Linked DNA regions of Homo sapiens: regions 2 and 3 are each linked to region 1. The links come from fine-mapping of genetic effects on gene expression. A gene starts in region 1. Each other region holds a variant in brackets. All regions are shown on one strand. Distances are between the middles of the regions. Region 1 holds the start of MYLK4 (myosin light chain kinase family member 4). Region 2 overlaps WRNIP1 (WRN helicase interacting protein 1). Region 3 overlaps MYLK4 (myosin light chain kinase family member 4).

Region 1 (6,218 bases):
AACAGTACTTGAAAGATAATGAAATTCATATAAACTATTACAGTTAGTTGATGATTTCAAAGTTCTCCAAGAAGAATATTTTGTCTTCTCTGTCCTACCGAAATTAATAAACAGAAAAAATTATCCTGTTTGTACCACTGAAAACCCTAATGAGAAAGTCATGTCTCACTTAATTTTGCCTGTAGATATTTCTCCTTGGTCTATATTGAACTCATGGGGAAAGCAGAGGTCTCAAAAAAATGTTTCAATCTGATTCATTTATTCTCTCCAGCACATTTTGTCATTTCTTATTCACTTACAATAAAAAGCCTCCTAGACCTTTTATATACAATCTCTCTATTTCATTGTCTATTGCATTGTTAGAAACGCCCTTCCTACCTGAATAGTGTTTTTTAGAACAGTAGCTGGGCAAAGAAGGATGTTTTCCAAACCTGCCTGATAAGAATCACTTGCTCTGATTATCAAAAATAATGGTTCCCAGCCCTCAACCAGAATTCACTTAAATAGATCTGTGCATTCCAAAAACACTTTTGGTGCCTATTTGTTTCCGTTACTAGGAAAGCAACTGAGGAAACATGAACAAATAACACGAGGTTTCCCAACCTTAAGGAGCCTTGTCTAGAGAAAGGTGATCAACATGTTCAAAACCACCACATGTGCTGGAATGAAGGCACGGGCAAAATGCTTGATGCTCCCACCGGGCAAGGAGCCAACGGATGATGGGCAGGAACTGACTGGGCCAAGGCAGGGGAGGTAATTGCTGCTGCCGCTAACACATATTAAATGCTGACTCTAGTGACAGATACTAGGCGGAGTGCTTTACAGACGTGATCACACTTAATTTTCACAATTGCTATTATCTCACTAATTCAGATGTGGCAAGCCCTTGGTTAAATTAATATTTTTCCCAAGAACGAGCAGCTGGAATGGGGCTCAGAACTCTCGTTCTGCACAGAGGAGGGTACAAGCCCCACCGTCGTGCCATCAGCAAGTCTTTCTTGTCCCTTCTCTGGACTTCACTATCAACAGCTCTGCTGTCTACCGCGTGAGGAACTCAAGATCTGAAGGAAAAAGGAGAAACTTCTTTCTGCAGAACAGTGTGCCTCTCAGAGCCCTTTTCTGAATTTCAAGCCCAAATCCATCATGCTAAAGGATTCTTCTTCATTTCTGCAAGCTGGCTGTATAACTCCTAAGCCACTAACTAAAAGTGAAGTCGACTGCTGGCAGAAATGCAGTTTCAAAGGCCTCCTAATTATTTACCAAACACAATTGTATAGTCGACACACACAATTCTCACTGAAGCAAAGTGGAATGATGCCTATTCATAAACTTTCCTTAATTGTACTCACAAGCGGCTCCATGACATTAGAAAAGATAAGATAGAATGAATACTTTTTAGGAGACTAAATTAGAACATGATTACCTCATTATGTCCAGATCTTGAATCCTGGTCCCCAGAATTTTTTTCCAGAAAACACTTCACTTTCTCCACCTCTTCCCTGCACTGAAAAAAGGCCATTTTCTCCAGCTGGTTGCTGTTATAACACGTGTTGAATTCTTCCAGCCTCTTCACTTTTAACATCTTAGTAGTGAGTCCGATTAAGCTACTTTCTGGAGTGTGGTTTTCGTCTCCCTCTGTCTCCGATTTATAAATCAGGACACAATTATGACTCTTCAGTGCTTCTTTCTCTTGACTGCAAAGAAAGGAAACACAAAAAGTTCTCATCACGTATTCATGCATTTGACTTCTTGAGAAAATGACCAGTGAGAATTTGGAAGTCCCTTCTGTTTAAACTGGAGAGAGGATCCAAAATCAGGAAAAGAAATACTAACATTCATATTGAGTTTCCAACATTGGAACTTTAAAAGGAAAAAAAATTTTTTCACTTTAAAACTACAAAAGCAAACAGTAAGAAGCAATGTCAAGATTCACTGGTGATGAAATATGCTCCTTATTGCACAAAACAAGCCGTAGATCAAGTGGCCAGCTTGGATGTAAATTATAAAGTATCTTTGGGTTTAATTGGAACCGCAGGTTTTGCAGCCCCGTGGGAAGGGCTTATCACAGAAGGGGTCTCTCTGCTTCCCCTGGCCTCCCTCTGCAGAGGGATCGCTCCCGAATGAGTCCTTTTCCAGAACTCTTCTCTACCTATGCCTTAAAATGTGTGGTGTTTATTTGTGAAAAGAAATTTATTTCCTTACAGTCTTCTCACGTGGACAGCACTCCCAGATACCTTTCCTTGCATCTGCATTAACAGCTATGTACCGAGAAGTTCAGAGTCTTTTCACTCTCCTTAAAATACTTTCCTCGCAAATGAAGTAATGCAGCATACATAATTCGCTTTGATACTAGAGACATATACGCATGTCTATATGTACACATCACTTGATTGCATAGAGAGGCAGGGAGAGGGAGAGACATTTGAATTTGTGCTAGTTCCGCATGGCTGACAACTGAGGCCCCCTGGTGGAGATTTTCCGAAAAGCGCCTCTTCGAGCATTTTCTCCGCTTAAAAACCGTATTGTGATTCTCATCAGAAAACTTAATATTTTGTTTTGTCAGTTCCTATAGTAAAATGATACTCTTGAGTTCCAAAGTGTTTAAAATTCACTGCTCTAACAAATTATACTTATCCACATAAAGAGCTTACATTCAAACAAATAAAAATGCAAATATTAATACTATCAACCAGAGCTCTACAGATATATTACAGATCATTCTTAGCATTCTTTCAAATTGCCCTGAAAAAATTATTAAAATAAGGAAACAAATGCATGGCTATTTCTAAGGCAAACTACGACTAAAATACTATGGTTAATTGCAGATGAAACTCAAGTTGGATCAGGAAGCCACACAAAATTAATGTATTAAAACAAAAGCTTAGGATTAAGATACAATAATTTTGCAAAGAAATATTAAACATTAAGCTCTACCTGAAGTTTGGTACAATTTGTTATTGAAGGTAACTTAGAAAAAAGGGGAGGAGATTTGAGAGGTTATAACAATAAACAAAGATAATTACCATTGATAGGATCACATCGAAGAGCTTGAGCCACTCCAAGTCTAGAGCATACATTCCAGAAGATAAAGAGAAATTTTGCAGAATTCAAACTGACTATGAAAGTCTCTGGTAAAAGTTTTGACTCTCAGTCGTATAAATCTTCTGAAAAGACAAGTGTCCACTACGAGAGGAAGTATCTTCTCTCTCAAATGCCACTTTCAGCCCCTGTTTAAATTAATATGGCTCTTGATCTCACGTTGCTCAGCTGTTGCCTTCTTAGTCAGATGGGGAAGAATATTAATTTTAGACACCAGGCTTTTCAAGGCCAATGGCTCCATTTCAGAGGTCAGGTAAGGAGAGGATGAACCGGGAACACTGGATGAAATATCACCTTCACCTTTCCCTCGTATCATTGTGTCAATACTCTCGGATTTACAAAGCTAGATTTGTCCTCGGCAATCATCTGCCTGGACCTTCTGCCCCTTTCAGACTCAGGATTATTTAAGTGCTCATTAAATTTCCCCCAGTAGGGAAAATGCCAGGTGTGGCAACCCCACAGCCACCTCTGTTTGCCCATCTTACGCTTTGAGCATATCCAACTGCAATATAGAAGATCTTCTGAAAGCAGTTAGCAAGTTTGTTTTATTTTTCTCAGTTCTTAAAGATGTTTGCAAAGTCTCCAACCATTTCTAGCTCTAGGGAAAGGTCAAAGGCACAGGCATCCAGGAAACAGGAATAAATTTTTCATAAATTCTCCTTAAGCAACACTAGGACTTCATCCGTAGTTTTCTGCACAGACCAAGAAAGGGGAATTTCAACCCACCTGCCCGACTCTCACAGTAGTGCATCCCTAGATTCACTGAAGTGGCATAAAACTTTGATTGCCCAGAGGCTGGACTTTGCAGTCTTGAAAACCCTGCAATTTTTCAGGGCCTGGCCAATTGTCACCTCTTATTTGGAGCCTGTGTTAGCCCCTCTATGCCCCATTCTAACACCAGCCTCTGCTGCTCTTCTGCTTCTTTTAAAAAAAAAACCTTATTTTTAATTCAGATCGATGCATTCCATGTGAAATAAAAATACATATTTTTCCATTTTATGTAGTATTAATGAATTACAGCAAAATCTTTTTTAAAACACAAAACGCTTGTTATTTTTCAGATTGGAGAGCTTTGTTCTTCAGCAAAAGTAATGAAGTGGAACTATAAATTTGTGGAGATAAATTATCTGACAAAAGTATTATACAAAGACTAAGCTGGTTTGAGGTTACCAATTTTGTTAGTATAATTAAATTGTGTAGAAGTACTGATAAGGCAACAAATGCCCTGCCAGAGGCAAGATGTGTGTGGGCTGCTGCTGATCCAACCACATCCTCCACCCGGACCACCACCACGCAAAAGCAGACTTCCTATCTCGTTGGCTCCAGCAAACCAACCACAGGCTTGAGTGAGCCAGAGGCCAGGAGAATCTGCTCCTTAGCTTATTTTTTTGTAATAAACTTTTCCTTTTAGAGTAGTTTTACATCTACAGAAAAGGTGCAAAGGTAGTTCAGAGTTCCCCTTGCCCTGCACCCCGAATCCTCTGTTTTTAACATCTTACGTTGGTATGGTATACTTGTCACAATTAATGAACCATGGTGAACGTTATTATTAACTAAACTCAATACTTTATTGTTGCTGGGTTTTTTTTTTCCCCAAATGCCCCTTTTCTGTTCCAGAATCCCATGCAGGATTCCACAGTACATTTAGAATCAGTAGGATTTATGATAGATTGGGTATGGGGTATGAAAGAAAGATGGTAGACACCTTTGCATATTTTCTTCTGAGCACTTGAAAGACAGAGTGAACATTAACTGAGATGGAGACGGCTGTGGGAAGGGCAACTCTGGAGGGAAAGGTCAGGCATGAAGTCTTTGGCAAGTCCATTAAACGTTCAAGTTGAATAGGCTGTGGAGATAGAAACTGGAGTTCCGGGGAGGGGTGTAGGCTGGAGATAAGAATTTGGAAGGCATCCACATATAGACATTTCCATGCACAATATACATTCAATACATATTTGATTAATGACTAGATAGAATGATCTTTAATTGTGTCTACTTGCCCTAAAAAGCAAGTCAATTAAAATAATCCATGCTAAAAGTGACTGATTGTCTGGTTCTGCTGCATCACACTGTTCCCAGCTTCCGATGGCATACAGGACAAGCACACTGCTGGCACAACCCTTGACCACAAAAAAACAGGTTATACATGCATACTCATTCTGGTCTATCAGCCTAGCCTCAGGATCCTAAGTCCATACCCATAAAATGTTCTGCATGCTTAAAGATGCTCTTATACCCGGAAAAATTCATTAGTGAGGAATATGAGCAGGCCCAGGAACACTTTTCCAGTATTTCCATATTTTGGAGTTATACTTCTCTAAAAAATACCAACATCAGGAAAACAGCACCCTACAGAGCCATGGAAAAGAATCCCTTGATTTTTTTCAAGGGACATTTCCATTAGCTGAGTAAGAGACTGTGTTGTCAAAGGAGCCACATGAAGAAACATCGTCGACAGCTCTTGTCTACGGGTTGGCATTGAAACCCGGCTGGATTACACTAAGAGTTTTTGTTTCTACACAGCGTTCTGAATGTTTCCAGAACAAGACCTCTTGAATGTTTACACACAAAAGCGGAGCAACAGTACAAATACCCAAATGCAAATAAAAAGCTACTGCATCCCTGTTACCCACATTACAATAGAACTTCCTTACTTTCAAAAATCACCACTGAATACGACCCATAAAAACGAAGATTGATAAATTGCACTTCTTCAAAATTCAAAACGTTTGCCTTTGAAAAAACACTATTAGGAAAATGAAAAGACACTATTATGAAAATGAAAAGACCAGCTACAGATGTATAGAAAATACTGTGAAGTCACATATTTGACAAAGGACTGCATCTAGCATATACAACTTAATAATATATGACAAAACATTCCAGTTTTTTAAATGGACAAAAGATTAAAACAGACCTCACCAAAGAAGATATAAAAATGGTTAATAAGCACATGAAAAAAAATGCTCAAAATCAGTCATCAGGGAGATGCAAATTAAAACCACAAGGAAACATCATTTCACACCCACTAGGAGAGCTGTAATAATAATGAAAAAAATAAAAGATAGGTTGGGTGTGGTGGCTCACACCTGTAATCCTAGCACTTTGGGAGGCCAAGA
Region 2 (6,218 bases), 33 kb after region 1:
CTCCACACCAGCCTTGCCATGCTGTTACTGATCTCACCCATTACATCATGCTCCTGAGAGGGGTCACCCGTCCATGCACATACAGAGCGGATCTTGGAGGGGTTCAGTCCTAGGAATCCCACTTCCTGAGCTCCACGTTGCAGAGCTCTGCACAGTGGGGATCACCTTGTCTATAGCTTGGAGCTGGGGGGTGGTGGAGGCTGCCTAGTGCCGCTGCCTAGTGCCAGCGCCTTAAGAACCCCACATCCTATACATCTTCCCAGTATGAGTGTGTTTACACACCCCACCCCAGTGCAACATGTCTGCCCCACAGTGGATCCGCAGACACATAAATATCATTCAGATCTTGGAGAAAGCTGCTTTTACAGGCTTTGCTCTATAAATAGGGATAGTGGAAGCATTGCCCTGGAAACCTGTTAGCTTATACTCTTGGGCCTTTTTATAACTCCAGTGAGACAAAGACCCACCCCCAGAGTTGTGATTATTTTTGTATATGCCACCTAGTTCATAGTTACCCACTAGTAGGATCCAGTGATGTTTCTGCATCAGAGTGAAGGAATTTCTAAATGAGAGCAAACTCTCTGCCATGCATTGACATCGGGGTTCTATAGAAGTCGTCAGATTTCAGGTTATAAAGCAGTGTGTAATAAAAGCAAACATGGAAGGTAGCATAGAATAATACTAGTATCTATCACTGATGCAAAAGAATCTTTTTACAGTGCCTGCTCTGTGCCAGGCGTGTGTTATTTAATACAGCCCTGTGAGGTAAGTGGTCTCGTTTTTCCCATTTTACAGATGAGAAACCTGAGGCACAGTGAGGATCAGGAACTTGCCCATGGCCCATGAGCTTGGGGGTCCAGCCCAGGCTGTTTGGTCCCAGAGCCTGTGCTCTTGTCCATTATACTGGTGGTATTGCCCCTGGCATTGACAAAGTGGGAAAAGATGACTAACCTGTGTAGGGGGAGTTTAAATTTGACATAAAGTGGTGTGGGTAGTTTCTTCCAGCCCCCATGCCCGTGAGTTTAGCCAGGCCTGTTACCTGCTACCCTCTTCCCCGCCTTCCTCCACCCTGCAGAGGAGCAGAGCGTAGCCTGAGTGCCTGGGCCAGCAGGGTGAGGGAGTGGGCCAGAACCATGCAGATGTCATCCAGGACACCCTCTCGGCCAGTGTCCATAGCACTCTGACTTCACCAGGGGAGCCCTGCACAGGAGACACTCAGTTTGTTCTCAGAAATCCAGTAGCTGGGCTGACCCATCCATCTGCCCTGGCTCTCAGAAACCAGAATCACTCAGGCTGAGCCGTGGGTCCTGCAGGTCTTTCCCCTGTGGGAGGCCAGCATCTTCGCTTGCTCTCTTCTCCACCTGAAGACCAACTGTCATCTTACCAGCGAGCTCAGCTGCCAGGGTTTGTGGCTGGCGCCAGTCGTATTGTGGACATGGGCTTATGCTGAGCACAGACCAGGTGCTCCTCTGGGAGGAGTGAGACTCACGGGAACACCATCCTCCGCTTTCTCGTGAGGAGGGTGCCCCCTCCTTGAACTTACCTAAGGGACGATGGCCAGAGAATAGTGAAATGTATGCAGGTGCCACTGCTTAGTTCCTGAGAACTGTTTAGCTGTCATTTTTTTGCCCTTAAATATGCCTTTTTTTAAAGCACATTTCACTGATTTCATGTGAATCTAGGGTAAAAATGGAGTAGTAAGACCAGGCGGTGAGAGAGTGGGCTTCCGTCCACTTCAGGGCGGAAGCTGGTTAGTCCACGTGTCGGTCCTTCTGGGACCCTGCCACACAGGTGTCCCCACACCAAGGCTGGCAGAAGGAGGTTTAAATGACCACAGGCTTCGGATATCAGAAAGGCAGCTGGAAATGACACTGAGGAACAGATGGGCTATAACAGCTGCCCTTGCCACTTGGCTCTACATCCTCCTGGCTCCGAGCAGGCCCACCGTTGCTTTTCCTCCAGTAGATGGTGGGCCACGGGATAGAGCCAGAACAGAAGACTCGTCCCCCTCCACTCTTGTCTCTGGCAAATCCACCAGCTGGGAGGACCACCTTTCCTCCCTCCTGCCTCTGTGCGTGTGCGTGCACTCCATGTCGACAGCCACAGGTTTCTGCTGCAGCAGCCTCTTCCCCTGAATAGGACTGGGATTAAGCCCCAGCAGCTGGTGCACCCCACTCAGAGCACGGTTAAGGCAGCTGCCCAAACCTCTCCTCGGCTTTCTCAGGGCCTTTATTCGTTCAGGCTTTCTGGAAGTCAGCTGGCGGAGGTGAAGATGGCTTGGGCGCCCCTCCTGTGAGCTCTGTGTGAGTGGTGCTCTTTGTGATGTCAGGTGAGGAGCATTACAACTGCATCTCCGCCCTGCACAAGTCCATGCGGGGCTCAGACCAGAACGCCTCCCTCTACTGGCTGGCTCGCATGCTCGAGGGAGGAGAGGACCCACTCTACGTGGCACGGAGGCTTGTCAGGTTTGCCAGCGAGGACATAGGTGAGTGTGATGGGAGGGTCCCGGAGTCCTATGTCCATGAGGGTGGGGAAATGGCTAACAGTTACATCGTGGCTTTTTTTTTTTTTTTTTTTGCAGGGCGGGGTGGGCGGGGGTAGCAGGAAGAATGTCTCAGGGCTATGTGAGACTGGCAGGAGAAGATAAGACTTTATGCCTGAGCTCAGTCGTTTATTTCCTGGTGT[A/T]TGTGCTTTTGAATGTTTATGTTCATAAAGTCACCATTTTCTGTTTCCTCTTCGGGAATGTTTTTACTAACATGAGTGGCTATTCAGAGTATTGCAATAGATGAGCTGCTTTTAAATTTGCTTTAAGTCAGGTGTTCAAGGTTTTCTTTGGACAGCTCCCAAGGTAGAAATGGAAGACTCTAGACACTATATGAAGAAAAAGATCAGGAAAGCTCTCCTCTTCTTTGGTCTTAGGGGATGTTTTGTTTTTAGTGTTTCCATCCTGGTGAATGTCTCCATAGCCTTCACTTCTTATGTTTGTTATACAGAGACTCATGTTTTTCTAGATGCAGAGTTTTTATCCACAAGGAAACAGTTCTTAACACCACACAGTAACCACTCTCAATATTTCTTGCATAAGTTCATGGGATCAGAGACTAGAGCTAAGTCAGGCTGTTTTGCTACATGGGATTGTTTTGGTCACCAAGTGTACAAGCAGTGGTGGTCTGTGGTCGCCTGCACATAGGCCAGGAGGACAGTGTGTGTCATGACTGAAACTCTCCTTTGTCTCTGTGTGTGGCAGGTCTGGCAGACCCGTCTGCGTTAACACAAGCGGTTGCTGCCTACCAAGGCTGTCATTTTATAGGCATGCCTGAATGTGAGGTAAAGTAATCAGCTCATTTCTTGCAAATCACTTCTTTTCTCTCTCGTGCTCTGTCCCTTTGTAGATTTGAATAAATGTCCCTCCTTCACCATTGGTGTATTGGACCCACTGAGTATGCTGCTTGGCTTTGGAATTCCAATTGTAGACTCTTAGACTCCTAGAGAGGGAAACCTTCTGTGTCAACGAGGTCATGTTTCAAACTGTTCTCGGGATTCCGGGGTTCAGAGCACATGCTCCATATGTTCCAGGGAGCAGAAAGGTTAAAGGAGCTGAACAGCAAAGCCTCTGCAAGTTCGCCCCCAGAGCAGCTTCATATTCATCTCTTTTATATATTGGGGGCTTAAGAAAAATTTAATGTAGTAAAAAGTCCTTCAGTTAAAAAAAAAAATGAAAACCACTCACCTGGTTTGCCTCTCGTTTCACCTCATGAGAATTTCTTCTGTCTGTCGTAGGTGGTTATCCAGACTGTAGGCGCAAAAGGGGGATAATAAAAGCATGTGGGGATCTTCTCAGAATTACCTAGAGCTGTGTATCAGAAGGGGCTCTGCAGAACAGAAGCTTGGCATCTTGCTAGTAAAATGTGTCCTCTGTGTCATTGGTAGGTGCTTCTGGCCCAGTGTGTGGTCTACTTTGCCAGAGCCCCAAAGTCCATTGAGGTGTACAGCGCCTACAACAACGTCAAAGCCTGCCTGAGGAACCACCAGGGGCCACTGCCCCCCGTGCCCCTGCACCTGAGGAACGCGCCCACTAGGCTGATGAAGGATTTGGGCTATGGCAAAGGCTACAAGTACAACCCCATGTACAGCGAGCCTGTGGATCAGGAGTACCTGCCTGAAGAGTTGAGGGGGGTAGATTTCTTCAAGCAGAGGAGGTGCTGACTCCTCAGGGCACGACAGCAGAAGGATGTTGCTTTTTTAAGGGAGGGCCAGAAAGAAAGTTAGTGGATTGCAAAGTTGGTTGCCTGGTGGAAGTTAGAACAGACCAACATTTTGTGCCAGAAATTTAAGAGTTCCATAGGTGGAGGCGCAGTTCTTTCGAATAAATGTGTAACTTTGAAATTGTGTTCATTTGCACTCGGTGCAGCGGTTATGCTTATGAAAATACCTGGCAGCTTTGTGCAATGAATTAATGTTATAAGGAATTATCTATTTTGTCATAGTATTTAAGTCATAATGTCATTTCAGAATTCAGTTCTGTAGGATTTTCTTTTCTTTAAAAAATGTATATTCTGGGTAGTTTTAATTGGTAAAAAAATGTAATTGTGATTTAATACTGCATAGTGTTTTGGGTATTTTTTTTATATGCAAAGGTCTTACGAGCCAATAAAACTATTTCAAAGTACTCTTCGATTCTGTCATGGTTTTCCTGCCTGGATGCTAGGTACCAGCGTTGTCACCATTGCATTTGGTGGGTGGATACTGGGAAGGAGAAATCACCCCAGATGGGAAGAGTGGGGAGCTTAAGTTAAGAAGTCAGTGTTATCTTGTTGAAAGTTAACTCTGATCTCTTTAAAGGAATACATAAAGGAATTCTTTAAATGGCTTGTGGAAGACTCCAGTAGTCCCATGCCCATTTTTTCCCACTTGTCCTGGTTTCTTCTTGCAGCTCCATATTTCTAAACAGTCGTTTTTCTTTTACTTTATGTGTGTCCTGAACACAAAATACGCCACTCCTTCTGCTCAGTTAAGAGTTATTTGTCCCTACTGCTACTTCCTCTCCCTCTCCTTAGTTGCATGTCGTGCATATGCCCACAAGGATGGCCCCTTCAGGTAGTCGGTTCTCCTCCTGCTGTTGCGTGATCCCTCCTGGGGTCCTCCTGCCATGTCTGGAAGGCTGCCGGCTGTTGGCCTGGGACGTCCTCTGCCTTTATTCTGAGTGAGATGCCCATTTTCTGGATGCTCCATCCCGCCTTACTGGTTTATTCCGCTATTTCAGTGCAACCCATCCTCTAGTAGTTTTATCAGGCTGGAGGGACTGTATGTTGCAGAGGCTTGGCCCGACTGGCCTCCCTCCTTCTGTCTGGAGTGGTTGCACTGCAGTGTGCAGTTGCCATCCCCAGAATCTCCCTTCATCATCACCCTGGAGCTTTCCTCTGCTTCTCCCTGCACCCCATCTGATGACAGGACTGACTGCTTTCTGGCACAGGTGGCATGTACCCTCTAGTAGCTTTATGGAGCAGGGGTGTGTGGAGGAAAAGTATTTTTAGACCTCAGGAGACTCAAAATGCTTTTATTGTACCTTCAGACGTGTCTGAGGGTTTGGCTAGTAATAAATTGTAGGTAAGAAATTACTTGTGCATTGTTTTACACTTTCCCACATTGTTGTCAAGTTTGAAGGCATCCTGATGTGTGTGGTCTTTTGTTTGTAACCTCTATCAACTTGTAGACTCTTCTGTCTTTGCTCCCCGTGTTTTAAAAGTCTGCACTGGGTACTTGTTGGGCCTTTCAATCTGGAAACTCCTTTCAGTTCTAGGGAAGTTTCTTTTTTTATTCAATAAATTTATTTATTTATGAGACCAACTCTTGCTCTTTTTCCCAGGCTGGAGGGCAATGATGCGATCTCGGCTCACTGCAACCTCCACCTCCCAGGTTCAAGCGATTCTCCTGCCTCAGCCTCCCAAGTAGTTGGGATTACAGGCGCACACCACCACACAAGGCTAATTTTTGTATTTTTAGTAGAGACGGGGGTTTCACCATGTTGGTCAGGCTGGTCTCGAACTCCTGACCTCGGGTGATCCACCCACCTCAGCCTCCCAAAGTGCTGGGATGACAGGCGTGAGCCACCGCGCCCGGCCTCAATAAATATTGAGTGCCTGTTTTATGCTGAGCATTCTTGTTGATGTTAAAACACATCAGTGAGCAGAAGAGACCAAAAATTCTGTGTTCTTAAA
Region 3 (6,218 bases), 71 kb before region 1:
TTAAAAAATATCTATCCCTTTTATTAGATGGTGAGTTACTATAGGCAGGGACTGGATTTGTGCCTCTATTCTTAGCACATGACACATTTCCTGGCACACAGTAGGTGATCAACACTTGAATGAAAGCATCTCCTGCCAAGCTGTGTGCCAGACCCACTGCCCACACTGTTTCCCCACTCCCTGTGACACCCTTCTACCTGTTGATCCACAGCCATGTGTATTAGTGACTTTAAAGCCATAAAGATAATAAAACGATAAGGCAAGTGCTATTGACCCTGAAAACCTTAACTACTTCAATCATTATACGGCTCAGGTATAAAGCCATCTGAAACAGCGTGTTTGATGGGTTAATCACAATGCCCTTCCCCTTCTATGATTCTAAAATGCAAATCCCTATATTTCAATGTCACTCTTTTTCATTCACTGAATTTTGAATTAATGTGGTTTTAGCATAACAGAAAATAGAGGGCCATGTAATAAATAACAGCCAAGTGTGCGGCCGTTGGGGAAGGAGAACTATCTGTTTGAGCCTCTGTTCTGCCAATTACTGGCGGTATGATGATGGGCAAACCACGTGGGATCTTCTACCCGATTTCTGCCTCATGGAGTTGGGGTCAGGGGTGGTAGTTAAAAGAGATAATGTCTACAAAGCACTTGGCATGATCTGGCCCACAGTAGTTTCCCAAATGAAATGGTAGTTAAAGATTCAGCTACACGGAACCATATACAGCTTAGTAGAGGTGAAAGGAATCCTAGAAATACTTCTCCCAAGCCTTCCATTTTGACAGTGAGTCAACTAAGGCCCAGCAGGAGTCCATGGCTGGTATGGCCATATGATAAATGGCAGGAAGAGAAAGGTTTGTGTAGCTTCATGACCAAAGCAGTCCCAGATCTCAGTAGACTGGGTCAAGAGGCTCAAACCTCATTCTATCCATGACTTTGCGCAAGCATCACAGATGTTAGTAAGAGAATAAATTCGAACAGCCCTGGTGGTAGGCCCTGCTTCCTTATCATCCCTACTGCGCCCGGAGCACAGGACGAACTTGCGTTACCTCTTCTCCTTAATCAGAAGCTTAGAGATGAACTCCTTGGCCTCCTCCGAGATGTCCTGAAATTCTTCATCCTCTAAGTCCCACCTGCAGGCCAGGATGTTGTTCAGCGTCTCAGCATCATTGTCACCCAGGAAAGGCGACAAACCGCTAAGTCTGGAGGACACGGGGTCCAGAGTGAGTATTTTTTAAACAGCCTCAACCCCTTTCCATACAGATTGCTTTTCTGGTTGTGCCATTTAAAGGTGAGAGAAGGAAAATAACCTAATCCTGAAGCATAATTTTATAACATATTATTGTAATCAAGAAAATGCTTGCCGCCCCCACCCAACTCCTAACTGAACAACTGCAGCAATAACAGAATATGAATATGAATATCAGCTTCCTTTTTAAAGCACTTTTCAGCTTGCAAAGTGCTACTACATGCTCAGATGGCAAACGCTAGGCATGTCACCTCTGAGGGGTGAGGCTAGCCTGAGTCATTTAGGAGATCAGTTTTTTTTTTTTTTTTTTGAGACGGAGTCTCGCTGTGTCACCAGGCTGGAGTGCAGTGGCGTGATCTCGTTTCACTGCAACCTCCACCTCCTGGAAGCAATTCTCCTGCAGCCTCCCGAGTAGCTGGGATTACAGGTGCATGCCACCACGCACGGCTGATTTTTGTATTTTTAGTAGAGATGGGGTTTCACCATGTTGGCCAGGATGGTCTCAATCTCTTGACCTCGTGATCCGCCCACCTCAGCCTCCCAAAGTGCTGGGATTACAGGCTTGAGCCACCGCGCCAGGCCATGTGAGCTTTTTAAATTAATTTTTGGCTTTTAGGTTGTGTCCTAGGAGTTAAAGTGATTAATGAAGAGGACACACATTTACTTTTCCAAATGATGTGCAGGGAAAGAATTCACTCCTTTCACCCACAGGAGTCAACAAAACCTAGAAGGCAACTGAGGATGGGACAGTGTTATTTATTTTTTAAATACCCCAATTGGGGCTTTTATTTAAAACGGCAAAACCTCAGAAAATATGCATGGAGTTGGAGAAGGGTCAGAGACAGAGGAGAGCTACTCACAGCATATAGGCGATGACCCCCACACTCCACATGTCAGTGGGAAATGAAACAAAATCATAGTTCACAACTTCAGGGGCGAGAAATTCTGGGGTTCCAAAGTTCACCTTCAGCTTCTCTCTGGGTTTGTATCTGCAATTTAAGAGACAAAGTGGAAGGATGGACGTGTCGATCAAAAATCGTGAACACTGAAATGATGTAGTCTATGAGACAAAATGACTTCAGCCATACAGCAAACTTCAGACAAACAAACATTGAAGGAAATCAAACAATCAAGCAAGAGGCTCAAAAACTTGTAAAGAGGCCCCAGAAAATTTAAAAGTCAAAATTCATACTAGGAAACCTTAAAAGCTGAACCAGTTGTTGGAGAAGCTGCTGTGAATAATGAGAACATCTGAATTACAGAAGATGACAAGAGGAAAACTGATATAGTCATTGACATGGGGATGATGTGAATAAGCCTGTAAAATGAATAAACACAGTACTGCAATAATTTACAACATCCATTTTATATGTGTCGTTAATGTGCTGAATTGTTAATGTGTCCACGTAAACTCTTTGTTCCCTGAAGAATCTTTTATGTGCCAGAACCCTTTGCAAACTTGCTTACGTTGTTAATATTTTTAAAGTAAATCTTCTCTGTACAGATGGATCAAATATGAAAGAGGGGACAAACTCTTGCAAATGCTAAATTAATGGCTTCTAATTTAATAAACTTCACTGTATTAGGTTTTAATTTTTTATACTTTTTACTGCATGCATTATAGAAACTTCTAAACACTCAAGTCTCAAATTTAGCAAGTTAAGGCCAAACATAATTTTTGTTAAATTAATTATAAATGAGATCATGAAACCAAAGAGCAGATCAGATATATGTTTGCAAAGGAAGGGCAACCATCATGTCCCCCAGCTCCATTCGTACACCTATGTCCAAATAGACATACCTTCTGGCCAATCCAAAATCAATAATTTTTATTTGCTTAGCATCCCGATTCACACACAGGATATTCTCAGGCTGCCAGGAGAAAGAGACACATTAGCAATGAAAACAACCATCATTCACTCAAATTGTCCTTGAACCACAACTAAAAATACAACGATGCTCAGAAAAAACATATCAGGCCTTTCACTTCGGGGCGGGCTTGTCCGTGTGGGTACTTTCTCCTTTAATTATGTGGTGGATGAGGTTGCGGGTATCCTGCCAACCCTGCATTATCCAGCCTGTCCTCTGCACGGCTTCACAGTTCACCATAATGCCTGAGTTCAGGCAGAGGCCTTGAGGGGAGCAAGAAAA[G/A]GAGGTTGCTTCAGTCCTTCCCAAATGTGCTGTGGAGGCCCGCTCAGGCCTGACATCTGCCCCTCTAAATTATTCAGTATGAATTTCCCCTTCTTGGAGAAATATTTTTCCCAAGATTGATGAGTTCCAAGGGAATTGACCTGCTCCATTCAAACAGCCACACTGAACATGCACTGTCACGTGAACGTTCCGGCCTCCAGAGCTTCCCTTTGCTCAACGCCTATGGGAAAGTCGCACGGCAGAGGAGGGCTTTTCTCTCCAGTCGTTCTTCAGTCTCAGCAGTTCCAAGGTTTTGCTGAGTTTGGTCTCAATGCCTAAAACCCCTGACTAAGTGTTCCCTTGGAGCTAGGCCCTGGTAAGACCTTAGCCTGCTGACCTGACAGTCTTGGGGTGCAGGGGGAGAAAATGGGGTGTAGTGCAGCCACTCAGTGTTCACAGAATGCCTTACAAGTGCACCTAATGTTTACTGGGGTAGAAAAACAGAGGTCTTGGGAAAGTAAGAGATTTGATTTAAAGTCAAGGCCATTTATAAAAGAGAAAAAAAGTTTTCAGAGTTAAGAACCCTCAGTCCCAATTCTTTACAAGCTGGAGGGCACCATCCCAGAAGCCAAATGCCCAGGATCCCGTTCCTCAGCCTTTAGTGGGATCAGGCTCCCCTCCCCAACCTGTCCAGGTGGAGAAGAGGTTCCAATGAGATCAGAAATTCAGAAACACATTATGAAATGACATAATGTCTCCTTATCAATATTCAATAGTACATTTGGTTGGGCAGAATATCTTTGGAAGCCCTTTTCTAAACTATCTCTAAAACAGATGTTTGTGAGTAAAAGTCATTATAGAGAAGGGGGTGCTACGTGAACCATTTGGTTTCATGCTTAAATCACTGATGGATCATGTATAAAGCTGTCCAATTGTGAAGGAGTACTGTGGCATCAAAAAGTTTGCAGGATATAGAGAAACCGTTTTGAGGGCATTTCAATAAGTTAGCCTTTTTATGACGATAAAATTAAACAATGTTCATTGGATAAATTTTGCAAAACAGAAAAATATAAAACAGACTGTTTGTAAGTCACCTATAATCTCCCCCCACATACTGACAATCACTCAATATTTTTGGCCCTTTTCCTTCCAAGGAGCTTTCAGAAAAGCAGCTCCTTAAGGACCCATCCAGCTGTCACCTTTATGATGATCTCTGCATCCAAGCCATAACTAAAACTGCCCACTGCAGGTCCTCAATCAATGTTATGAAGCCTCATATGGAGTCATTTGACTTACAATAGGTTTGCTCCTAGTTCCAGTTGCCAATCAAATCCCTGTAGGGATATCTGCAGAATATCTACATTCAATGAAAATGCTCCATGAAAGCATGCATTATCAAACTCAGTTCATAGTGAGGGTTTTGCTAATGATTTTTAGCCTCTGACTTTGTCATTTTATAAACCACTTCCTCCTGCTCTCCTCCTGCTCAAAAGTGAATGGGAAAGGCAAGGCACATAAATCAAGACAGTGAGGGAAGCCAAGTTATAGGAAGAGAGGCCCATGGAAACCTATTTCAGGAGGCTAAATTTATTTAGCTATGCAATCCCTAGTGAATGCAATAGATGGGATGTTATATAGATTGTATATTTTATGTTACTGTCACGCTGTGCAAACAGGGAAATGAGAAAATGACCAAGCCACACAAGACGTACTTTATGATACTTAGTCCCAATATGGGACTTGATCAGGGTTGTTGGGCCTAGGTCTTTTATTGGTTGTAACTAAGACTACATACAGTCCGATTCTAGGAACTTCATAATGAGACATGAGAGAGGTAAAGAGGGAAGGGGCAATCAATAGGAGGAGAAAGAAAGGCGGCTTGGCTTCTGTGTGCTTTCCACCATTGGCAGTGGGGTGCCCACCCCACCCTCTCTTCTCCTTAGCACTTTGGCCCCATCCTTCCGACTGTCCTCTGCTGCATTCTCCATAGGATTCTATTCCACAGGGCAGCAAACCCACAGAAAAACAAGTCCCAAAGTCTGGAGCTTCCTGAGTGACTCGAGGAGCTGCCGGCGATTCTTGGAGACCTGGAAAGGTTGACTACTACTTAGGGAATTCTGAGTTAGCTAAAATCCTCTCACCTACTTGTCCTGATGAGAGGGCTACCACGTGGATACCGCTGTGGTGGTGGTGACTGTTTTCATTCTAAACTTTTAGGGAAACCATTGCCATATAGATTTCCTTAACGCAGGCAAGTTACAAGAATCTGAATATCACCCCTGAAGATGGAACATGCAAATATTAGGGAGTGACAGAAGCTGAGAATAAGGAGATGAGGGTAACAATTCAGATGTTTATTCATTTCTGAAATGACTGTACCAATTTCCCCAGCTGGCATATAATAGCAGACAGGGCCCACTGTGCAAGAGCTGGGAAGGGCTTACGTCTCACAGGATACAAAACACCCTTACCTTCAGGTCCAAGTGGAGAATGTACATCTGATGCATGTGCCTTATCCCCTCACATATCTGCTTCATGAACAGGATGGTATCAAGCTCCGTCAAATTGTAGCTCTCATCGATGATGCGGTCAAACAGCTCCCCACCATCCACACTGCAGAGGGAAGAGGACTGAAACCCTCAGTCCCGATTTCCTTACCACCATGTGCTTTTCTCGTAGTGACTTGTCGTGCAAGTTCTGCTACCTCTTCTGAAAGGTGTATGTGCAGTTATTTCTCTGCCTTCTTTACTATCTTACTTAGATGATTCTTATCTTGAAGGCCTGTATTTTATATACCTTTAATCTCACAAATGGAAATCCTCAAGCCAACTCCCCA

The links.
Region 2: its variant is fine-mapped to the expression of MYLK4 in lung (TOPMed, PIP above 0.99). The same link has a PIP of 0.9 or more in whole blood.
Region 3: its variant is fine-mapped to the expression of MYLK4 in whole blood (TOPMed, PIP above 0.99). The same link has a PIP of 0.9 or more in atrial appendage, breast, coronary artery, esophagus muscle, gastroesophageal junction and minor salivary gland.

What each region holds. Positions count from the first base shown.
Region 1 is chr6:2,747,713-2,753,930 of GRCh38, forward strand. MYLK4 (myosin light chain kinase family member 4) reads right to left here and starts at 3,210. Exons shown (of 13, transcript NM_001012418.5): 1 at 3,024-3,210; 2 at 1,424-1,694. The coding sequence starts at 1,582. RefSeq lists a silencer at 4,783-5,077.
Region 2 is chr6:2,781,077-2,787,294 of GRCh38, forward strand. WRNIP1 (WRN helicase interacting protein 1) reads left to right here. Exons shown (of 7, transcript NM_020135.3): 5 at 2,330-2,485; 6 at 3,248-3,327; 7 at 3,931-5,876. The coding sequence ends at 4,206. Among named protein-coding and RNA genes, the nearest start is that of WRNIP1, 19 kb to the left of the region's middle. The variant A/T (reference allele first, on the strand shown) is at 2,686.
Region 3 is chr6:2,677,168-2,683,385 of GRCh38, forward strand. MYLK4 (myosin light chain kinase family member 4) reads right to left here. Exons shown (of 13, transcript NM_001012418.5): 7 at 5,854-5,995; 8 at 3,054-3,124; 9 at 2,113-2,241; 10 at 1,053-1,205. Among named protein-coding and RNA genes, the nearest start is that of LINC01600, 46 kb to the left of the region's middle. The variant G/A (reference allele first, on the strand shown) is at 3,404.